Homo sapiens: one gene and its partners. The protein of the gene in region 1 purifies or fractionates together with the protein of each later gene. This does not show direct contact. Each region holds a gene or a part of one and is shown in the gene's direction. Other genes may lie near its edges.

Region 1 (4,096 bases):
AAGTCTATCCTGCCATGCTGGTCAATACATTTTTACGTGTAGCAATTGAAAGAACAGAGAGAGATGAAAATGGGTTTGTAAAATATGATTATCACGTATGTGTCACTGGATTTTGAGTGGCACAACGTTTCTACCCCTACAAGACCACTGGAACTTTTTTTTAATATCTTGCAGAAACATGTGTACATATGAGAAGCTTTTCTATAAGCCATGTTTGAGGTAATTACCTAATACAAATATGATTCTTTCTAGGGCTTGCCTGGTACAGGTGGTCCTCCAGGAGAAAATGGAAAACCTGGGGAACCAGTAAGTTACGTTTCATTATTCAAAACTCAGAAACAAAAAGAATACACACTGTTTGTTTGTCAACTATTAACTTCTTAATTTTCTTATGCCATGATATTTGAGATTTAACATTTAGTTTTGAAATATTATCAAAACAAAGACAAATTATTTAAAAGATAACTATTATATAGAGTTTGAATTTTACCATAAAATAGAGAGTTCATAGTTTCAAGATTTGAAAAATTATACAGTATGCCAACATGACAAATGTGTATTTTGCTTATATTTACATATTTGCTTATATTTACATATTTGCTTATATTTACATAAAATGCACTCTGATATGGGCCTAATCATATAATGCCAATCTCCCAGGGTCCAAAGGGTGATGCCGGTGCACCTGGAGCTCCAGGAGGCAAGGTAGTATTTCAATTTATTCTCTACCTTCTTCAGCAGGTTATAGAGCAATTGATTAGTAGTATATTTTTAGTATATCAAGCCAAAATACTCTTTCTTTAAAAGAGCATCATTGCAAATGTTTGGTAAGTACACTTAGAGAAACTCAAGACACTTTCAATACATTAAATTTGCTTTAATCTGGAAGGTCCAATTCTCTGACATTCATAATCACTACAGAATCAAATACGGGCTTAAAATTTCAAACGGAAAAATATTGCCAATATGTTGATTCTATGTAGGAAAACTGTTTTGGTAAAAAGAACTTTAAAATGTTGCTCTTGTGAATAAAATAATAAGTATTTCAATGACAGCTCACACTTAACCAGACTAAGTATCCAAGTTTTATTTTAGACACTCTTTTAAGCTTCTAGTTCCCACCCAGCTGTTCAACTATTTTTAAGTATACAAATTTCTAGATTGTTCACAATATAATAACCTAGTGGCCTGATTCAAAATGATGCAAGTTAAGGTGCTTTGTTTTTAGCTTTGGGTTGTCTAATATGGTTATTTACATATTTTTGTCACAGGGTGATGCTGGTGCCCCTGGTGAACGTGGACCTCCTGGATTGGCAGGGGCCCCAGGACTTAGAGGTGGAGCTGGTCCCCCTGGTCCCGAAGGAGGAAAGGTAACTCCACAGCATTCCATTCACCTAGGTTTAAAAAATGCATTTGATTTCCTTCTGATCATTTATTATTTCTCACTTATTTTCAGGGTGCTGCTGGTCCTCCTGGGCCACCTGGTGCTGCTGGTACTCCTGGTCTGCAAGGAATGCCTGGAGAAAGAGGAGGTCTTGGAAGTCCTGGTCCAAAGGGTGACAAGGTGTTGACTTGTTTTCTCTTAATTGTTCAATAAATCAGTCATTGTAGGTTTTAAAAAAAGCAACACTCCTGGAAAGTAATCGACTGTATTTTCAAAATTAATGTTATCATTTTATAGTAAGTGAAATTTAAGATGGATTCCTAAAGCAACAATGAATTAGAACACCCAATATATATCCCTACAAATCCTGAGAGTTACTCCTCTTCTTGGCTGATTTTCACTGAAGATACTTTGAATCTGATGACATTGGCTTTTATTTGACAGGGTGAACCAGGCGGTCCAGGTGCTGATGGTGTCCCAGGGAAAGATGGCCCAAGGGTGAGTATTCCCAGTGAGGAGAAGCAGGCCTTATCTATATGTCATATGGGACAGTCCTGCACTTCAACTTTAATTTTTTCCAAAAACTACTCAAGAGAAATTAGATATTTTACCACCTAAAGACCCGAATGACTTGATTTATAATGAAATTTGTGGTCTATATCTATGGCTACTTGATAGATCTACAGTGACTAAAGAATGAAAAAGCCTCAAGAGTACGATAAAGGTCACAAACTAGCATTTGTGAGTCACTAAAATCTGAGATAATCACTGAAATTTAGGATAATCAATGCTGCTCATTAAGAAACTAAAAGTCATCAAAATTCAATATAGTAAGTACTCCTCATTAATAGACTTAATATTTAAAAATTGTATAGTATTTAGCAACAAAAAGGAATGAACAATTGATGCTGTACACACAGCAAATTATACAAACCTCAAGGACAACATACTCAGTGAAGAAAATTCAGTCACCAAGGGATACATACTGCATGATTCCATTCCTACAATATTTGCAAAATAACTTCCTTGTAGAGATGTAGAACAGATTAGTGGTTGCTAGCAGTTAAGAATGAGAAAGAGAGAGATGGATGTGGCTATGGAGACATGACACAAGGGAGTCTTATGGTGATTGCACATTTGAGTATCTTGATTGAGGTGGTAGTCAGGCACATCTACACATGGGATAAAATTCTATAGAGCTACATATACACACACATAAATGAGTGTGTGTATCACTGGTGAAATCTGAACATGCTCTATGGATGGTATCAATGTCAATTTCCTAGTTTTGATATTATATTATAGTTGTGTAAGATGTTAACATTAGGGGACGCTGGGAGAAAAGTGCACAGAATTTCCCTGTATATTCCTTTGCAGCATCCTATGAATCTATAATTCAAACTAAAAGTCAAAAACAAAACAAAAAACATCTCCTAAATATGATTATAATTAAGTCTTTTAATAAATTTATATAATAGTTGCCTTAAAGAAATTCATAAATGCTTCGCTTTTGACAGACTAAGTAGATAAGCCGTCATTCAGGTAAAAAGAGTGCTCAATACTTCAGTTTTGTAATATAAGTAAAACTACTATTTGAAAATTTCAAGTTGAAAAATTTAATATGTACAATGAGACTTTGAGAAAACATTTAAATTATCAAGCAATTGAATAAAGAAATGTACTTTAATTTAAAAAGACATTACTGTAAGATCTTACATGACATCCTATTTATCTTCTACAATGGAGATAAAGATAAATGAATCAATAAACTATTGCTGAATCCTATTTTCTCCCAGAGTTATCCCCAAAGAGGCTTGTGTTTACTGAGCTCTGCAGTATTTACACATTGAGAGAAAAGCATAGCATTCAAGCCATAAAAATTTTTAAAAAGTATGTTATCTAGTTTATTAGGTATCTATGTCTATATACTTTCTGTTTGATTAATGCAAAAAACGATATTTGTATCTTCAAAATTAAAAAATATTTTTATTTCCTCTAGGGTCCTACTGGTCCTATTGGTCCTCCTGGCCCAGCTGGCCAGCCTGGAGATAAGGTAACCCTTAATACTACCTGGATATAAAAAGAAAATGTCTCTCTCTTTTGGATGCAAGACAGTGACATGGCTTCTCTTTTTCCAGGGTGAAGGTGGTGCCCCCGGACTTCCAGGTATAGCTGGACCTCGTGGTAGCCCTGTAAGTGTTAAAGACATTCTCAACATACTTTTTAACCCCATACAGACAGTAGCTACTTATGCTTCCCTTTTTGGCAGTTTTGCCCTCAGTTCCCTGAGCCTCAATTTGGAGATATTATCTTCAAAAACCATATAAGGAACCATATAGCATGCAAGGGAATGTTAAATTTCTTAAATCTAACATTCACAGGAGACCATTTTAAATCAGGATTTCTTTCCTAAATAACTTTGGAAAAAATACATGAATTGCACAAGTAGTACATGTTTGTAATTAGGTATTTCTTAAGCCTATAGAATCTTTGCCTGAGACTCCTTCTAGATTTAAAAGTCTTGACCTTCAGGATTTAAGACTCTGGAAAGATATTTAGTAAATGGTTTTTAAAAATAAATCAGTTAATTTTTCAGTTAAGCTTCTACCATATATTGAAATACATAAATATCTATATATATAAATGTGTTAAATACTTTAAAATTCTCAAACTATTTTTCTTGCAAATAATATCACAGTAGGAGGCAGAAGG
Region 2 (4,674 bases), on another chromosome or scaffold:
GTCCACCAGCATGCCTGGCTAATTTTTTTTTTTTTTTGTATTTTTAGTAGAGACGGGGTTTTACCATGTTGATCAGGCTGGTCTTGAATTCTTGACCTCAATTGAGCCACCCGCCTCGGCCTCCCAAAGTGCTGGGAATACAGCCAGGAGCCACTGTGCCCAGCCCCTGTCACATGGGTCCGTGTGAAGAGAGTCCACCAACAGGCTTTGTGTGAGCAACAAGGCTGTTTATTTCACCTGGGTGCATGTGGGCTGAGTCCGAAAAAGGAGTCAGCAAAGGGTGGTGGGATTATCATTAGTTTTTGTAGGTTTTGGGATAGGCGGTGGAGTTAGGAGCAATGTTTTGCAGGCAGGGGGTGGATCTCACAAAGTACATTCTCAAGGGTGGGGAGAATTAACAAAGAACATTTTTAGGGGTGGGGAAATTACAAAGAACCTTCTTAAGGGTGGGGGAGATTACAAAGTACATTGATCAGTTAGGGTGGGGAAGAAACAAATCACAATGATGGAATGTCATCAGTTAAGGCTATTTTCACTTTTGTGGATCTTCAGTTGCTTCAGGCCATCTGGATGTATACGTGCAGGTCACAGGGGATATGATGGCTTAGCTTGGGCTCAGAAGCCTGACAGCCCCTACTTATTTTAACTATAAATTTTTACTCCTGGAGCTGATGGTGCCATGTAGCTTTATATTTTTTCATAGTTGTTCTAAGTATTTTAAAACTTGTTCATAAATTATTGGAACTTTAAGTTATTGTTATCACCAAATATCATTTCCTGGTATGTTTAGATTTTTTTTTTTTTCTGGTATGTTTAGATTTTGAAAGACAACTTGTGGCAATGGAAAATCAATCATCATGCAAAGAGATTTTAGATCAGCCATTTAGAATATTTTGAGATAATCGTGAAATCTTTGGCAGTAGCCTTCAAATTCAGCCCCAAACTATTCTGAGTCAAACCAGCTTTGGTAGGTAGGGCTTGAAGCTCTTTTACTAAGTGAGAAATTAATATTTTCCTTTTTGGCATCTATAAACAGCCTTTTCTAGATCAGTGCTGTCCAAAAGAACTTTCTGCATTGATGGACATGTTCTGTAATCTGTCCAGTATGATAACCATGAGCCACATGTGGCTATTGAACGCTTGAAATGTGGGCTAGTGTAATTGAGGAACTGAATTTTAAATTTTATTTAGCCGTAATTAATTTAAATAGCCACATGAGGCTAGTGGCTACCATATTGGACAGTATAGTTCTGAATTTTCTCCCCATATTTCCTAGAGAGATAGCATTTAAAGGCAATTATCCTTTAATTAGAAAAAAAAAAGTGGCAATTGGCATTGATAATACCAGAATTGAGATTTGACTTCATAATCCTATTGCTATGAAAAACCACTTGTGAGGCCACGTGCAGTGTCTCACGCTTGTAATCCCAGCACTTCGGGAGGCTGAGGCGGGTGGATCATGAAGTCAGGAGTTTGAGACCAGCCCGGCCAATACAGTGAAACCCTGTGTCCACTAAAAATACAAAAAAAAATTAGCTGCGCATGGTGGCAGGTACCTGTAATCCCAGGGAGGGTGAGACAGGAGAATCGCTTGGTCCCGGGAGAGGCAGAGGTTGCAGTGAGCCAAGATCGTGCCACTGCACTCCAGCCTGGGCGACAGAGCTAGACTCCATATCAAAAAAAAAAAAAAAAAGAAAAAGAAAAGAAAAACCACTTGTACTTGCTCTGAAGAAGATATTTTGTGCTGAAGTTCAACCCTACTCTAAAAACTGTTTCTCTTTTTAATTTCTATGTGTCTGCTAGCCTCAATAATAAGCATCACCCAGAGTTGTTTAGATGCCTGGCCCCTCGTGTCGGTGTTCATGAACTTGGGCTTATTTGCTCTTTTGCACATTACAGATCATGTATTCTTAGAGTCAGTTTCTGTACGTTTCAATTTTTCAAGGGAGAGGAGGTTCAGAGAAAGGTAGGAAGTAGGTAGTGATGCACAACTCTCGCACTCTTCCCTTGATTACAATCACAGAGACCCTGTGAAAAGTCTGACAAATGGGTACCCCTGGCTCCAGGAGCAGCTGAAGCCTCTGCCTCTGTTGGTTTCTGCCCTTCTTGTCTGGTTTCTTTCTCTTAGGTTTCAAACCCAGATCCTCTTGCTCAAGTCTAGCCTGTGGAGATTACCAAATCCACTTAAGGTGTAACCTACCATTATTTTTAGTAAAGCCATTAAAATGGGATTTGATTTAGCATCAAGCATGTTGTTTCCATTTTTAAACTAATTTGCTTTGATTAAACCCATTATTTTGATCATGGAGAGGGACATGTTGTTAATTAGACTGTTTTACAAGACACTGCCTCTCATGTTTCTTGGGTGAGTGATGCTCCCGCACCCAGCATAGGCATCTAGGGTACTTCTCTCCAGGCCAGAGCTCAGGGTCCTGGGGGTTCCCCTCCTCTGGAAGGGACTCTTCCTCAATCAATTATTTAAAAATTTATTGACTATGTTTGTGCCTACTAATTATAGGTTGAAATAACTCCCAAATTATCTCTGTGTTGAAGATATTAACACCCCCTGATAACATTTCCCAAATTAGTGTCCATCCCATAGGGTGATGGGGATGCTTGAATAAATGCTCCATATAATCTTTTTTATTATTTTTTTTTGGAGATTTATAATGCACAATAGCATGGTAAAGCCTCTAAGATGAGATACATATACTTATTTAACTTTTTATTGTTATTGTTTTCTGTTCTTTTCTTTTCTCTTTTAATAGAGACAGAGTCTCACTCACTCTGTCACCCAGAATGCTCAGTGCATTCTTGAACTCCTGTCCTCAAGGGATCCGCCCACCTCAGCCCCCCAAGTAGCTGGAACTACAGGCGTGTGCCACCATGCCTGGCTGTTAGTGTTTTCAAAACAATTTTTCTTACAACACTTACTGTAGTATTTTTCAAATTACATGTCTTGGGTCATAAAATCAATTGAGCAGGTTAGGATCAGCATTTTTCTTGATGAAATAAAATGTCTAATAGAAGTGGTCACTGTGCATCCTTTTTATTGACGGTTACTAGTGTTTGATGAAACTTTGGCTCCTCCATGTATAACAAGTACCAGGCCACAAGGCAGTGGAGAGTAGTGGTTCAGAGCACTAGAGAGTCTGGGCACGTTGGCTCACGCCTGTAATCCCAACACTCTGGGAGGCCAAGGCGGGTGGATCACTCGAGGTCAGGAGTTCAAGACCAGCCTGGCCAACATGGCAAAACCCCGTCTCTACTAAAAATACAAAATTAGCCGGGTGTGGTGATGTGTGCCTGTAATCCCCCCTCCAAGAAAAAAAAAAACAACACTAGAAAAACAGGACCCCGGACCCCTAGGTTCAAATCCTAACTCTGCACCACTCAGTCCATATGTAATAAGCAGCATATATGCATATTTATTATTTGCATTATTGTTACATAAGTGTATATGTGTATACCGGTTCATGATGTAAAATATTGCCTATGAAACTAGGCTTGGGATCCACTTGAGGAAACACTGTCCTAAGACAAAAATAATAGCTAATAGTGAGTAACATTATTGAGTGCTTAACAAGTCCTCCAGCTGAATGCTTTGCATCTTATCTTGTCTCTCACAACAGTCCTTTGGTGTAGGTATTGCCATTATCCCGCAGTACCTACATCCCAGTAAGTAGTGAAGGCAGAATAGGAACCCACGCAATCTGGTGACAGCCCAAGCGTTCAACCACCTCACCTCCCATCTTACAATGTGATAGCGATACATAGATGTACATCTACAAAACTGTGAGGCTCAAAAATTGTAGAGCATTGTACAAGTGCGGAAATAAGCTGATGCCAGTTATTTTCTGTGTAAGAGGAGGCCTGATGGGTGATAGGGGAATCATTGCACATTTAGGCAGGAAGAGACCTCACTGCTGCCAGCCTGTGGTCTCTGAAGGTTAACGCCCTTGAAAAAACAGCTATATGCCCAAAGAAATATGCTTGTCCCAGAGACTGACTACAGATTTTGTCTCCAGAGCTGTCTTCCTTCCCTCCTAACCACTTCCTAACTTCTGCACACATTTGTTTTTAGCAGATAGTGACAAATGGTCTCAGTGGATATGTCTGTCTTATAAATCTACCACTATTTACTACATCCTAAGTTATTTGTCTTTTCAAAATCACCTCCTGCCCACAAGTGCCTCGTGACATAGTTTTAATAAAATAAATAGAAAACAATGTTGTTTTAAGAATTTCATATGACAAAAGAAGTCTTGAAAGTGAGGCTGGAAATATTTTTTCTCCAGTGCAATCTAGAAAGTAAAACTAATTTCATTTTGGAAGTAGATTTCAGTTTTCCTTAAAGGTCAAACTTAATGTAATCGGATCACTTAAAGTCCATAGACTTTGTCAGGTAGACTAGAAGAGGCAACAGCTTGCCATCATGCTTACTTTCCTTTAAAAAGTACAGAAGCTGTGTCTAACGTGAAAAATTCTAAAGCTATTCAGATTTTGTTCAAGGCTGTAGAATCTTCCATCTCTGAGGACAGTGATCCAGACTCTATCTGTGGAATAAAAAGGGGCAAGATGAACTGCCTTTGAGAAAACATTGAAAGTGGGGTAATACTTTTAGACAGGTGTAGACAAAGCTTAAGAAGTAACTATGCTTAACTATGGCGGTAT
Region 3 (4,058 bases), on another chromosome or scaffold:
AAGCATTCAGTCTCTAGCAGGTAATTTTTTAATAATGTGATTTTTCTAGGTATTGTAACTATTAATACTTGGTGGGTTTTTTTTGTGGTCACTGCTTTTTTTTGAGACAGAGTCTTGCTCTGTTGCCCAGGATGGAGTACGGTGGTGTGATCTTGGCTCACTGCAACCTCCGCCTCCCAGGTTCAAGCAATTCTCCTGCCTCAGCTTCCTGAGTAGCTGGGATTACAGATGTCCACCACCCTGCCCAGCTAATTTTTGTATTTTTTTAATAGAGACAGGGTTTCACCATGTTGGCTAGTCTGGTCTCAAACTTGTGAGCTCAAGGGATCTTCCCACCTCGGCCTCTCAAAGTTTTGGGATTATAGGTGTGAGCCGCCGTGCCTGGCCGGTTACTGCTTTTTATAATGAGTTTTTTCGTTGTTATATTTGTAATAGTTCATCATGTGCAAAATCTGATCTGCAATGCACTCCCCTGCTAAGAAATCTTTGTCCTTTGTTCACTTTCTGCCTTGTTATATATCGTCATTGCTTGCGAGTTTATCATCTCCTTACTTTCTTTTAAATGTAAAGTTTTGTTTTCTTCATTGTATTTGGGTTTTTGAATATCATGATTTGTGTTTTTTACTAATGTTTTACGTTGTTTGATTATGGAGGGTCTTTGCCTCTAAGAATCATTTTGACTCTCTTTCTCCTTTACCAGCCTCTAAGGAAATGGCTTCTGGTGTTTGGCAACTTAATCACAGCCGGGTGCTACATGCTCTTAGGGCCTGTCCCAATCTTGCATATTAAAAGGTAATTTTTTTCTTCTTCTGTATGTTTGGCCAAATAACATTAGGAATTATTTCGAAAAATTTTGTTTTAACATTGGTATAGTTTAGTATTTTGAACATTAATATTTAAATAATTAACTTTAGGACTCTATTGAATTGTTAGGCTGACAATATTTTACCCTACTAGAAGCTAGCAGTGGGACAACAGAAAAAAATGCATAAAATCTGTCTCAAATGACAAAAATGCATATTCTCCTTCTGTATTTCAATTGTACATACTTGTTTATACTTTTGTTATATTTTTAAAATAGAATTTGTTGCTACTTACCTTTAGTTGATAGTTCTTAGAATATATTTTTGTTTTTTTTTTCTTTTCTTTTTCCTTGAGGCAGGGACCAAATCTATTTTTCTTTCTGTATCATCCTTAGCATGTAGTAGCTGCTTATTAGACCTTGCTTAATGTAATTTAGTTGCTAAAATAAACTGAACTTCTTAGACCTTTTCAGGTACTTCTGGGATAAAACATAGTAACCTGGAAAGGAAGGGGTTTCAGAGTCCTTCAGACCTGAGTTTACATTTTGGCTTTGCCATGTACTAATAAGCAAACCACTTAACTTCCAAGAGCCTCGGTTTTCTCATCTACAAAAAGGAGCTGATAATAGTACTTACATTACAAGGATTAAATCTGGTAACATATATTAAGTAACTGGCATAGTCTCCTCACATGGAACAAATGTGTTTCCTGACTCTTCTTTTACCTCTTTCCTTCTATGCCATCTTTAAATTAATTGAAGTTCAAAGCCGAGTGATTGAAAGAACAGTTTTAGTACTGACGTTTTCACCAATTTTGAAGGGATTTTGTCTGGTGAGAAGAAGCCAGGTTGGCTCCAGATATGTGATATGTGTAACCAAAGGACCAAAGAGATGGAGATATCAGGATGAATTCCCCCCCACCCCCCCGCCCCCAAAACTGTAAGGAGCTAAAGGACACTCTAACTGAATGAAATGGGTTAGATGGGAAAGGGAATGAGACTAGGCACATAATCGGTGAAATAACTTATCAGGGATCCTCACTTCCTTAGCATTAAGCTTTGTGTTTGTTAAAACGCTAATGTTTTTCTTTTTGTATTTGTTTTCTCCAAAACCCTTTTGCAGTCAGCTCTGGCTGCTGGTGCTGATATTAGTTGTAAGTGGCCTCTCTGCTGGAATGAGTATAATTCCAACTTTCCCGGAAATTCTCAGTTGTGCACAGTAAGTTACTTCCATTGCTTGAAGAGCTGTATTGTGAATAAGTAGTAAGTATCACAGGCTTTCTTGAATTTCTCAATTTTGCAGCATGTTGGATATTTTTGCCCCAATGTTAAATCTTCATGATTTTGTAGCATATGATATTATGATATAAATAGTAATAATACACTAATAGAAATGATAATAGTACATTAATAGCTAAAATGGGTTGTGGACAGATGTCTGGCTTGGTTTATGCCTCAGTATGTAAGTAATTTTGAAAAGCTAAAGCAAAATAGATAGGTCTCAGCATTGTTCCTCTTTCATGGAGGAGGTCCATGAGAGAGCCTAGAGTGACCAGCATCTGTCACCTGGTCATCATTCTTTTGTTTAATAGGCATGATGATGAAGAACACTAAGTACTATGGCTGTGCTGGGTCAGTTCAATAGTTCTCATGGGAATAAGGAACTATCTCTGTTTTTTAAAAGTTGCCTTTGTTCTCTTTCCATCTTCATCTCATTTTAAGAATTTCTTAATTATATATTTTTATAAGTATTTAATGCAAATGAGCCATGCTTCTTAATATCATATATATATGCAGAAAAATTATTTCTAGAAAACCATGGAGTAAATGTAACTATGAAAATTCTTTTAAATAAGATTTGCTTTTTATCTTAGAAGCAGAGTATTCTTGCTGTTGGTTTTTTTCCAGATTATCCTTGGTTTATCTTAATTGATCTATCATACAATTTTTTCTTTCACACAGGTTTTCCTTTTAATAATGGATACACTCATGTCTCTTTTTGCAGTGAAAATGGGTTTGAAGAGGGATTAAGTACATTGGGACTTGTATCAGGTCTTTTTAGTGCAATGTGGTCAATTGGGTGAGTAGTCATTTAATTTCTTTCTTTTTTTTTTTTTTTGAGATGGAGTTTCACTCTCATCACCCAGGCTGGAGTGCAATGGTGCGATCTTGGCTCACTGCAACCTCCGCCTCCCAGGTCCAAGAGATTCTTCTATCTCAGCCTCCTGAGTAGCTGAGATTACAGGTGCCCACCACCACATCTGGCTAATTTTTGTATTTTTAGTAGAGACAGGGTTTCACCGTGTTGGCCAGGCTGGTCTTGAACTCCTGACCTCAGGTGATCTGCCCGCCTTGGCCTCCCAAAGTGCTGGGATTACAGGCATGAGCCACTGTGCCCAGCCTCATTTAATTTCATTCATACTTGCAAGATGGAAAATATTAATACTATCCCTGCTTGATGTTGATGAAGAAATTGAAACACTGAGGGATCAGATGAGTTTCTCAAAGACAAACAGTTCATCTAGGGGAAAGCCAGAGTTCTAATCCATACCCTTTCACTCAACAATCAATGCCTATACCAACAGTTTAATACTTAGTCAAAATGGTTTCATATACTTTATCTTATTTGAGTGGTATTTATAAGTTCCTTTAATAGAAACATGTCTCTGATTTTTACAATTTATTCATTTATTCATTCATTTGTTTATTTTTTACCTTCTACCAGAAGGGTAACTATGCTAACAATGTAATATATTGTTTTGAATTGAGTTATATTAGTTGCAAATACTGAGAATAGAATAATATAAAGAATTTTTTAAATCTGTTTCATATTTTTTATTTTTATATAAGCCATCAACTTTTCAGAAGCAGTAATAATTTCAAAATTGTTAAAAAATTTTGAATGTCATTATCAGGTAGAATTATTTTCTTTTACTGAATGCTGTGCCCAGGAATTAGCTTTATCTTTAGTACTTATCTTCCAATGTAATGAAGACTTACAATTGAAGGATCATGTAGCTTTTCATGAAGTAATTATTTATTTTTTGCACTATTGAATACTTTTTCTTCTTTCTATTGTTAGTGCTTTTATGGGACCAACGCTGGGTGGATTTCTGTATGAGAAAATTGGTTTTGAATGGGCAGCAGCTATACAAGGTCTATGGGCTCTGATAAGTGTGAGTAATCAGTCTTTTATTTGCATTTTCCTTATATTTGTGGAAAAACTTGACTTGGAAAATTTACATTAATCAGTACT
Region 4 (4,674 bases), about 33 Mb from region 1:
GTAATTTAGGATTCCCAAAAAATAACAATGGTGATTCCCAAGGGTCCTGAGAAATCATGCATTTTGGGAATGACCCAAATGCATAATTTCTCAGGACCCTTGGGAATGAGAAAGGGAATGAGAATATGGCAGAATCCTTATAGCATCAGTAATTTGGAATTCCTAAAAAAGCACCATGATGATTTGAAGCCGTCTAACTGATCTGTATAGTTCAGAAGTTCAGATAGGTATAGAATATCCTAAGCTCCGTAATGAAGCAAACATATGTTCATCCTGAAGTTCTCTGCAGGAGTTTGCTTTTGGGAGGTATCAAGATGCAGTTGAGTGTGCTTTTGTGTGTGTCCATGGTCTTTTCACATGCATGGGAGCATGGCCTTCCTCCTGTTCAATCTTGCCCATCCTGTTTCCAACCTGCTCTCCAAATGGTGGCCAAAGTTGGATAGCAGCAGTGATTGGAAGGCTGGGAGAACCTTTCATAGAAAGAGAAAGGAGGTGAGAGTGAAGGAGAAGGTCCAGGGAAATGAGCAGCTTGCCCTGAATTTCCCTACTTGGAAAGTACTGTACTTGGCATGTCAGCATTCGACATCCTGAGTCTAGTATTTAACCAAACGTTTTACAATCTTGTTGCGAATTCTCTTTCTAAGGATTAACTATTATGTTCTCTCCCCATTTTTCAAATTGCATTTGAAGTAATCCGTCTTGAATAATGTAGGCTGAATTGCCTTTGAGAACACCACCAAAAATGTGAACCAGTAATTTATTGATGGGCAAAATTAGGCTGACACCAAGGGACAATTAGCACTAATCCATGAAACTTGGAAGCAAATTTGACCTAAGCCTCCATTCAAGTCAAACCGGCTTTCAATTATTTGAGGTGTTTTCTGGGCACTTTCCTGTTTACTCACAGACACAAAAGGCTTTGGCTGGACACCACAGAGTGAAGGAAGCAAAACAGAGCTTCAATTCTTGGTTTTCTCAGATAGAAGTGTCAGTGTGAGACTTTCTATTTAATAGCTAGCATTTACTGAACATTTAATATCTCCTTGGTATTCTTTTAGAAGCTTAGATTGCATTGCATTTTTAATAGTCACAACAATCTTGTGAAGTAGTTTTTATATTCCCCGTTTAGCACATGGGAAAACAGAGACCCCCAGATATTAAGCAAATTGTTCATGGTCACAGAAGTATTAATATAAATGAGGAGCTGAGATTCAACTTTTGCCTGGTCTGTATTGCACACATGTGAATAAGATGTATTGTTGTATCTTTACTGTAGAAAGTACTAGTTTCCCCGCCACCCGCCAACTTGTAATGTTGAGAGTCTGAACAAACTGGTTTGCTTACTCATAAAAAGTATGAAAATTTCTTTTCTAATTATTATCTTTTTTTCCTAGTTATCATGATGTTATGGGGCTCTTTCAACCAATTTAAATTTTGTTTCAAAAAATCATTGGACATTATACTACTAGAGAAATGCATGTAAAGATCATTTTTCAAAGACATGAAATATGGCTTTATGGAAGGACTCAGTAGAGAGACATACAAGTTGGGAAGTACAGGCGGCAGATAAAAATGAACCGGGCTGCAGTTTATCAAATGAAATAACAACTTGCTTTGAGGGAGACTTTTGATGTAATATTATACATGCAATGATAGACAATTAACTGTGTCTAATAGTATAGTAGGTTACTGACAAATTTGTGCCTCCTGCCCCCACTTCCTTAACATGCCAAGTGTGATGCGGAAGGCCAGGTAATCTTGTGTGGGGATAGTAAAATTACATTGAATTGTAGATCATATAATTTCATTTAAAGGTGTATAGCCAACTTTGTAAATCTTGTTCTTTCCACCCTACTGGCAAAGACATTGGGTGGTAAATTTCTGTTCTCTCCTAGAACATCAGTCATAGGCCAGTTTGCCTCTGTTGCTACTGCTATTCTTTTCAAAACAAGGGGAAATTTCTAGAAAGTGTAACTACTAAGTTATAAATATGTATATTTTAGATGAATTTATTCAGTGTTATACACTCACACATGCCATTCTGCAGATTATTCATTGATTGTATGTTAGGAATTAGTGATACAATATTGAAAGAGTTATCTAAGACTTAGGAGTATCAAGAAAATTTCAGTTAAATGTGGGCTGATAACAGCCTCCTAGGATCACTACGCTTGGTTCGTTCAGGTATTGAAAGTAAAGGTCATTTCTAGGGTACTCTTTTTAGTCTACTAAAAATAGAAAATTTGTCTGTTTTGAGTTTCAAAACATAAAGAAGGCAAAGACCAGTTCTTAATTTGCAAAGTTAGTGTGTTTTTCCTTTAATACTTCTTTTGGCAAATTCAGCTGGTTCTAGGAAATGCAGAAGGCTGGCAATGGTAAGATGATAAAAAATCAGGTTAAATGACCAGAGACAGGCAGGCCAGTCCTCACTAAGCCCTGGTTCTCTTAGGAATAGCCCTCTGGATTTATTTAGCCTAAATTTAAACAACATTTAAATTCCTTCCTTTGGGAATCTCTTGAACCTCTTGCTGAAGGTTTGTTTTTCAGTAAAGATTTGCTTCACAACAATTTCTCTTCATTTTTTATTGTGGATATAATAGATACTGTATAATAAATATAAGGACTTTTTAATCCAACTCCTGGTGAGTTTACTCAATGTCTTTGTTACCTATTTATATCATTTTAGAAAATATGAAAACAAACCCCCAAACCCTTATACTCTTACTCTGTTTGGATTCTGTCTTTTGAAGGTATTTGTAGAAACTCATGATGTTTCTTCTTTATTATCTCAGCAAAGACATTTTTGTTTTTAAAAATTGGGTTATGGTGGAGTTAGAATGAACCTTGAGTCAATAGTAACTTGAGATTGATGGAGAGATCAGGCTTCACCACTCCTGGGTTTACTTATCTAAAGGTTACAGAAGGCAGGTGGCACAGAGAGATTGCCAACAAATCTGACAAAAACCGAAGCGTACCTTTCTGAGTTCTTCATAAAGGGTTTCACCAGTGGAACTGAGCATAGTAAATCTTCATGAGTGAAGTTACATCAAAACTTTTGGAAGTCCAGTTCTCCTCCCAGCAATATAAAGCTGGAGATGCACTGTACATCGCTGGTCTAGATAGTTGCAGAGGACTACCTGATCTGAGCCGGGAGTACCTCCTTAGTCTTGACGTATTATAATATAAACTACAACCACAGTGTGTGTTATGGTACAGTGCACTCAGGCATGAACATGACCCTAATTTCCCACCTTCAGCCTCCCCAAGCTAACACAGTTTGTTCCCAGAACTTTCTTGAAAATGATTTTCTTACCCTGATGCCTTTGGGAGCCGTGGTAACAGGCACTCAGACCGGGGCAGTGAGAAAGCACAGTTAATGCAGACCTGAAATTAAGTGCTGTTCATGGTTCTATTACCCCAGGTGGCAATTTATTAAGTTAAGTAAAACTCTAATTCAATTATGTATCAACATGGGAAAATATTAACTTACCTCGTTTTCCTGTTGGAAACTTAAGGAGTATTAAATGTTGATGTTTTGAGGAAGTTCAAACAGCTTTCCTTACCAGTATCTTGCAACAATGGCGAGAGAAGACAAAACTCTTTTCAGACAAATGCTTGGGTGAGTACCAAAAGTTTGAGCAAATCCCTCGGCAAAGGATTTATTAAATTGAGCTTCTTCTCCAGAAAAATCTTTTCCTCCGCTCTTAAATGATCTGACTTTAAGAATTACAATTAAGTTGCAAAATTGTTAACATTGCTCTGTAAGGAAATCAATTCTCATCTTCTCTTAAGCTGGCCTCCTGTAACAAGCTGCATCTGCCTGCCCTGTAGGACAGGATGGATGTCACTTCCATCTCAAGCGATCGCTCGTCGAAATTAGAATCAAATTTTAAAATGAGCTGAAACTTTTTGCTTCCACTTTAGAGTTTTCCTGATTCTCTGTGCTTCCAAATGTGAAGTTTCTACCTCTAGCGAGCAATTATTTTGGTCTCCTTGACTGCTCTGTGAATCCCATGAGGACAAGGCATCAAACTACCAGAGTGCAGAGATCCTACTTGATTCCCTTTATATCCTTCCAACCCCAAACACAGTGCTTTCCTCCATATTAAGTTTCAATGGGTGGCTCACGCCTGTAATCCCAGCACTTTGGGAGGTCGAGGCGGGTGGATCACCTGAGCTTAGGAGTTCAAGACCCACATGGTGAAACCCCGTCTCTACTAAGAATACAAAAATTAGCTGGGCATGGTGGCGGGTGCCTGTAATCATAGCTACTGGGGAGGCTGAGGCAAGAGAATCCCTTGAACCTGGGAGGCGGAGGTTGGGTTGAACTGAGATCCCGCCATTGCACTCCAGACTGGGCGACAGAGCAAGACTGTCTCAAAAAAAAAAAAAAAAGTTTCAATGAACTTTTGATGTAGGAATTAGAATATCTTTAGTTGGTAGAAATCCTCTCTCATTTTAGGGGAAACATCATGTGTGCTCCGTGGAAAAATCACCCCAAGTTCTACATTTAAACTTTGCAGATGTAAGAGTTGGGCAGGAGCACAGGACCCATGAAAGGCCTTATATCACAATTTCTCAATAGTTTAGATATTCAGTTACATTTCTTGCTGCCATGACTGCCCTTTCTCTCCATTGACTCATACAAAATACTTGGGCTTTGAATTATTTGAG
Region 5 (4,674 bases), on another chromosome or scaffold:
CTTTCTCCGTTCTGTGTGTCCATCATGTAGCACGGGCCCTGGTGGCCAGTGTTACGTGCATCCTAGGTTGAACGAATGAATGAGTGCCTTTTAGAGGATAATTACATATTTCCTTGACCTGGTCCTAGAAGGGGAAGAGGACATAGTAAAAGCTAAATGATGAGTGAGTTAGTGGATGAGGGGCTGCACGTCCTGAGAAAGAGGAAAGGAGGGGGAGGTGGGTTAGGAGGGGAGTCCACAAACAGCTTTCCCCGCCAGGCTCCGCTCCTCCTCTCCCAGAAGATGCACACACTTCTCCCTCTGTCTCTCCAGATCCCCGACGTTTGCTGGTGGCCTCTTCTCCATCTCCAAGTCCTACTTTGAGCACATCGGTACCTATGATAATCAGATGGAGATCTGGGGAGGGGAGAACGTGGAAATGTCCTTCCGGGTGAGAGTGAAGAGGGCTTTGGGGGGAACCACAACATCCCAGGCGACAGCTTGAGAAACATCTCTCAGGCAGAGGTGGCATCAGGGACATCCCATCTGGAACTGAACTAGAAAGGGTGGCTATTTCCCAGTGTGTCTCTTCCTCTTTTCTGCTCCCCCTGTCCATGGCAGTAGGGCTTGGGCAGTCAGCCTGGACAGCTCAAAACAAACTACTGGGCACAACTTCTCAGAGGCAAGGAATAATAGGGGTAATGAGGACTGGACATCTGGTGACTGGGGACTCTTTTGCGATGTCTGTGGGAAAGGGTTAGGGTGAAGATAGAAACAGGTTAGTATGTTCACAACTAGGGCTAGAAAAAAAAAACAGATGAGTAACCAGTCATCATCCTTTTTCTGGAAAAATCAGGCTCCCCTTCCCAGTTCAAAGGACACATGCCCTGGTAACCTTTGAAGTTTCCCTACCTATGTACAATAAGCCCTTCATAACAGTCAGAGAAGATGGTGGCCCCAACTCTGGTGGACCCCAGAACTCTGAGAGATTCCAGGAATTAGGCAAATCAGGATTAGGTCAGGAAGCAAGGATTGCCTCTCCATGAAACCTACACAAATCTCCATGCCATGGAAAAGTAATTAGTAAGTAGATGAGCTCATTTATGAAGTCACCTCTCACGGTGCCTGATGCATATTAAGCACGTAATTGATGCCTGCTGTTACTATAACGATTATGTATTTCTGTTGCTGCCACACTAAAATGAATAACAACATACTTTCCCACCTAAAACCCAAAAGAAGAAACCAGTGGGAGGGATGTCTTCAGCCAGCCCACCAGCATAGAAAAGGGTCACCTGCCAGTCACCCCAACTCCCAGCGGCCCAATCCTAGGCTCCTCCATGAGCCTCTGACCTCTGTTCACCTTCCTAGGCAGCCAGTGTGCTAAGGGCCCAAGTGACTACCACTAGCCACCTAGCAGCCAACTATCCTTGCTATTAATTAACAGACTGATGCTCTGGTTTTTATCACCTGAGGGAGCTGATAAACTCACATTTCCAGGTCAAAAAGCCAAGTGATCAGAGCTCAGAGTAGGTATACAGGCACAGGTAACAAAAATTAACCAGCAGGCTTTTCCCTAAAGTGGGCCCTGGTAAACACAGGACCCTGCAGTCTCCCTGTGCTTAAGTCAGAGTGAACCAACATCAGAAAGCCTGGGATCGTGTAGTCATGGCCTAGGAAGAAGCCTGGTCGGTATCCTTTTTCCCAGGGAGAGAGAGCAGCATTTGCCCAAGTCCTTGGACCTGGGGTCTGGTGCTCTGGGAATAGAATAGAGCTGCTTATGGGGAGACTGTCTCACCTAGCCCACTGAAGGCCTCATCCTGTCTCCTCTTACATCAGGTGTGGCAGTGTGGGGGCCAGCTGGAGATCATCCCCTGCTCTGTCGTAGGCCATGTGTTCCGGACCAAGAGCCCCCACACCTTCCCCAAGGGCACTAGTGTCATTGCTCGCAATCAAGTGCGCCTGGCAGAGGTCTGGATGGACAGCTACAAGAAGATTTTCTATAGGAGAAATCTGCAGGCAGCAAAGATGGCCCAAGAGGTGAGAGGAAATGGTTCTCGGAGAGGTTTAGATGAAGAGAAGTACGGCCCCCAGACCCTGTTCATGGGCCTAATGGCTGGGACCCACCTCATCTCTACCATCTGGCGCCTCCCTTCACCCTCAGGGACCTGTGAGCTAGAGCCCAGGAGAAGGCCACAAGGCACATAGGTTTCAAAAGCTAGAGAATGTTGTCCCTACGCATAGAGTCTCTGCATCCCTTTGGAGGGGAAGGGAGGGAAAGGAGATTTGGAGGAAAAGCCTCTTACGGAGGCTTTGGAGGCTTTGGAGGAATGGCTCTGAGAGCCTCGGCACTGGGGAGTGGGACATAATTGTCTGGGGAGTCACAGGAGATGGACCGATAAGCAGGGGACTCCAAAGCTAAGGCGGGGTTTTTGGGATTGGATGTGAGGGCTGGGCCAGTATCTTTAACAGGTCCTGAGTGGGAATGAACATGAGAGACAGTAGCCCCAGGCGCTCCATGCTATCTGCACTACTTCAGCCCAGACAGGAAGGTCAAAGACTGGTGGAACTGGCTGGGTGTGGTGGCTCACGCCTGTAATCCCAGCACTTAGGGAGGCCGAGGCGGGCAGATCACCTAAGGTGAGGGGTTTGAGACCAGCCTGGCCAACATGGTGAAACCTCATCTCTACTAAAAATACAAAAATTAATTGGGCGTGGTGGTGCGCGACTGTAGTCCCAGCTACTCAGGAGGCTGAGGCAGGTGAATCGCTTGAACCCAGGAGGGGAAGGTTGCAGTGAGCCGAGATTGCACCACTGCACTCCAGCCTGGGCAACAGAGTGAGACTCCCTCTTAAAAAAAAAAAAAAAAACTGGTGGAACTGATCCTTAGGGGGCTGGCTTGATTGACAGAAATCCTTCGGTGACATTTCGGAACGACTGCAGCTGAGGGAACAACTGCACTGTCACAACTTTTCCTGGTACCTGCACAATGTCTACCCAGAGATGTTTGTTCCTGACCTGACGCCCACCTTCTATGGTGCCGTAAGTCTTGAGAACCAACCTGCCTGCCCATCACCACAGCACCCCTTGGAGAAGTTCAAGACCACTGACCCCACAGATGGATGACAAACAAGAATTGAGTTTTGCCCTGCACCCTCCTTTATCCAGGAGGAGGACTGAGAGGCCACGTTGGGGCTTCTAGAGATAGCAAAAAACCTTATAAAGGGCAAAACAACCCACAAGCAGTGGTCCTGAAACATTAGCATGCATCAGAATCACCAGGAAGGCACGGTAAAACGCTAGGGCCCATCCCCAGAGTTCCTGATTCAGAAGGACTCAGGGGAGGTCTGAAAACTTGCATTTCTCACGAGTCTCCAGGTGATGCTGATGGTCCAGGGCTCACATTTGAGAACCACTGCTTATAAGGAAACTCCCACGTGCTGAGGGCTTCTTCCAGGGACCTGGCATCCTGGGAGGTTCCCTGCCTGCCCCACAGAGGGGTTCAGTCCTGCCCTTTCCAGCCTCTGGGGCTCTGCAGCTCACTTTGCTGTTAGCTCCAGGCATGTGGGTTAACGCACAGAGGAGAGAAATGACGGGGGAAATCCAGCCATGCAAATTTGTTGCAGTTGACTGGAATTTGTTCCAGTGGGGCCCCATACCACACATGAGGAACCTCCTGACTGTGCCATCCTGCTTCCCCTCTCTGCTCACCCTTCTGCAGATCAAGAACCTCGGCACCAACCAATGCCTGGATGTGGGTGAGAACAACCGCGGGGGGAAGCCCCTCATCATGTACTCCTGCCACGGCCTTGGCGGCAACCAGGTATGCAGCCCACCCATCTCCGGAGCATCTCCTCTCCTCACCGGCTCCTTTTCTCTACCCTAAAGAGTCCTTTCCTGAGGACTGGGAGGGAGGAGATACCATCCCTGCCCTCAGGAAGCTTCCAGTCGGAGGAGAAGGCATAACACACACAAGGTCTGAATAAGGGACATCCGGAGAGAACGAGGCATCGGTGCTGGGTGTGAGAAGGGGATGGGAGGGAGGGTTGTTCATCAGAGGAGGCTTGAGGAGGCTAGCTGCTGGGGGATATTTAGGGGTGAGGGTGGAAAATTTTCCAGCACATCCCATCACCTGCACTCAACTTCTATCTTCAATGCATCCTCTGCCCAGAAGCTACCACTCTGATCCTACCACCTTCCAGTGACCCCAAAACTAGGTGCCCAGCACTAGTAAGTGAGAGGCACTGAAAACAGAGCCAGAGTGGGGAAAGGAGTGGTGTGGGTCACTGAACAAGCCCGCTGGCATATGTAGGTGAAGACAGTCATTCTACAGCAGTTTCCTGTACCACTGGCCTGCAAGATGATTTCCAGTGGTGCACTGGAGAACATTTTTTATTTTAATAGTAATGTATTAGCAAAAATAGAACAAGCATATCACATGATTTCACGGATGTTACTTAAAATGAGGCTAAGTTAAATTGAATTTTAATCTAATTTAAAGGAAATATGATTAGGCACGGTAGCCCACACCTGTAATCCCAGCACTTTGGGAGGGTGAGGCAGGTGGATCACATGAGCCTAGGAGTTTGAGACCTGTCTGGGCAACATAGCAAGACACCCCATCTCTATAAAAAATTTTTAAAAAATTAGCTGAGTGTGGTGCTACACGCCTGCAGTCTCAGCTACTCAGGAAGC

What was found.
Region 2: the proteins of COL3A1 (region 1) and TMEM150C fractionate together in Homo sapiens (co-fractionation; one large-scale study listed by BioGRID). This does not show direct contact.
Region 3: the proteins of COL3A1 (region 1) and SLC18B1 fractionate together in Homo sapiens (co-fractionation; one large-scale study listed by BioGRID). This does not show direct contact.
Region 4: the proteins of COL3A1 (region 1) and PAX3 purify together in Homo sapiens (affinity purification with mass spectrometry; one large-scale study listed by BioGRID and IntAct). This does not show direct contact.
Region 5: the proteins of COL3A1 (region 1) and GALNT6 fractionate together in Homo sapiens (co-fractionation; one large-scale study listed by BioGRID). This does not show direct contact.

What each region holds. Positions count from the first base shown.
Region 1 is NC_000002.12:188,998,014-189,002,109, forward strand, and holds part of COL3A1 (collagen alpha-1(III) chain preproprotein), read left to right. Parts: intron 1-252; coding exon 253-306; intron 307-660; coding exon 661-705; intron 706-1,271; coding exon 1,272-1,370; intron 1,371-1,456; coding exon 1,457-1,564; intron 1,565-1,828; coding exon 1,829-1,882; intron 1,883-3,383; coding exon 3,384-3,437; intron 3,438-3,522; coding exon 3,523-3,576; intron 3,577-4,096. UniProt on the Homo sapiens protein: Collagen type III occurs in most soft connective tissues along with type I collagen. Involved in regulation of cortical development.
Region 2 is NC_000004.12:82,554,754-82,559,427, reverse strand, and holds part of TMEM150C (transmembrane protein 150C), read left to right. Parts: intron 1-4,674. UniProt on the Homo sapiens protein: Nonselective cationic channel with high permeability to Ca(2+). Component of a mechanosensitive cation channel, confers mechanically activated (MA) currents with slow inactivation kinetics. May contribute to proprioception.
Region 3 is NC_000006.12:132,770,956-132,775,013, reverse strand, and holds part of SLC18B1 (MFS-type transporter SLC18B1), read left to right. Parts: intron 1-700; coding exon 701-792; intron 793-1,925; coding exon 1,926-2,021; intron 2,022-2,764; coding exon of another isoform or gene 2,765-2,777; exon of another isoform or gene 2,778-2,807; coding exon 2,808-2,882; intron 2,883-3,884; coding exon 3,885-3,978; intron 3,979-4,058. UniProt on the Homo sapiens protein: Proton-coupled polyamine antiporter involved in the translocation of polyamines from cytosol into secretory vesicles prior to their release via exocytosis.
Region 4 is NC_000002.12:222,222,129-222,226,802, reverse strand, and holds part of PAX3 (paired box protein Pax-3), read left to right. Parts: intron 1-1,382; exon of another isoform or gene 1,383-4,674. UniProt on the Homo sapiens protein: Transcription factor that may regulate cell proliferation, migration and apoptosis. Involved in neural development and myogenesis. Transcriptional activator of MITF, acting synergistically with SOX10.
Region 5 is NC_000012.12:51,356,477-51,361,150, reverse strand, and holds part of GALNT6 (polypeptide N-acetylgalactosaminyltransferase 6), read left to right. Parts: intron 1-312; coding exon 313-430; intron 431-1,818; coding exon 1,819-2,019; intron 2,020-2,889; coding exon 2,890-3,021; intron 3,022-3,700; coding exon 3,701-3,802; intron 3,803-4,674. UniProt on the Homo sapiens protein: Catalyzes the initial reaction in O-linked oligosaccharide biosynthesis, the transfer of an N-acetyl-D-galactosamine residue to a serine or threonine residue on the protein receptor. May participate in synthesis of oncofetal fibronectin.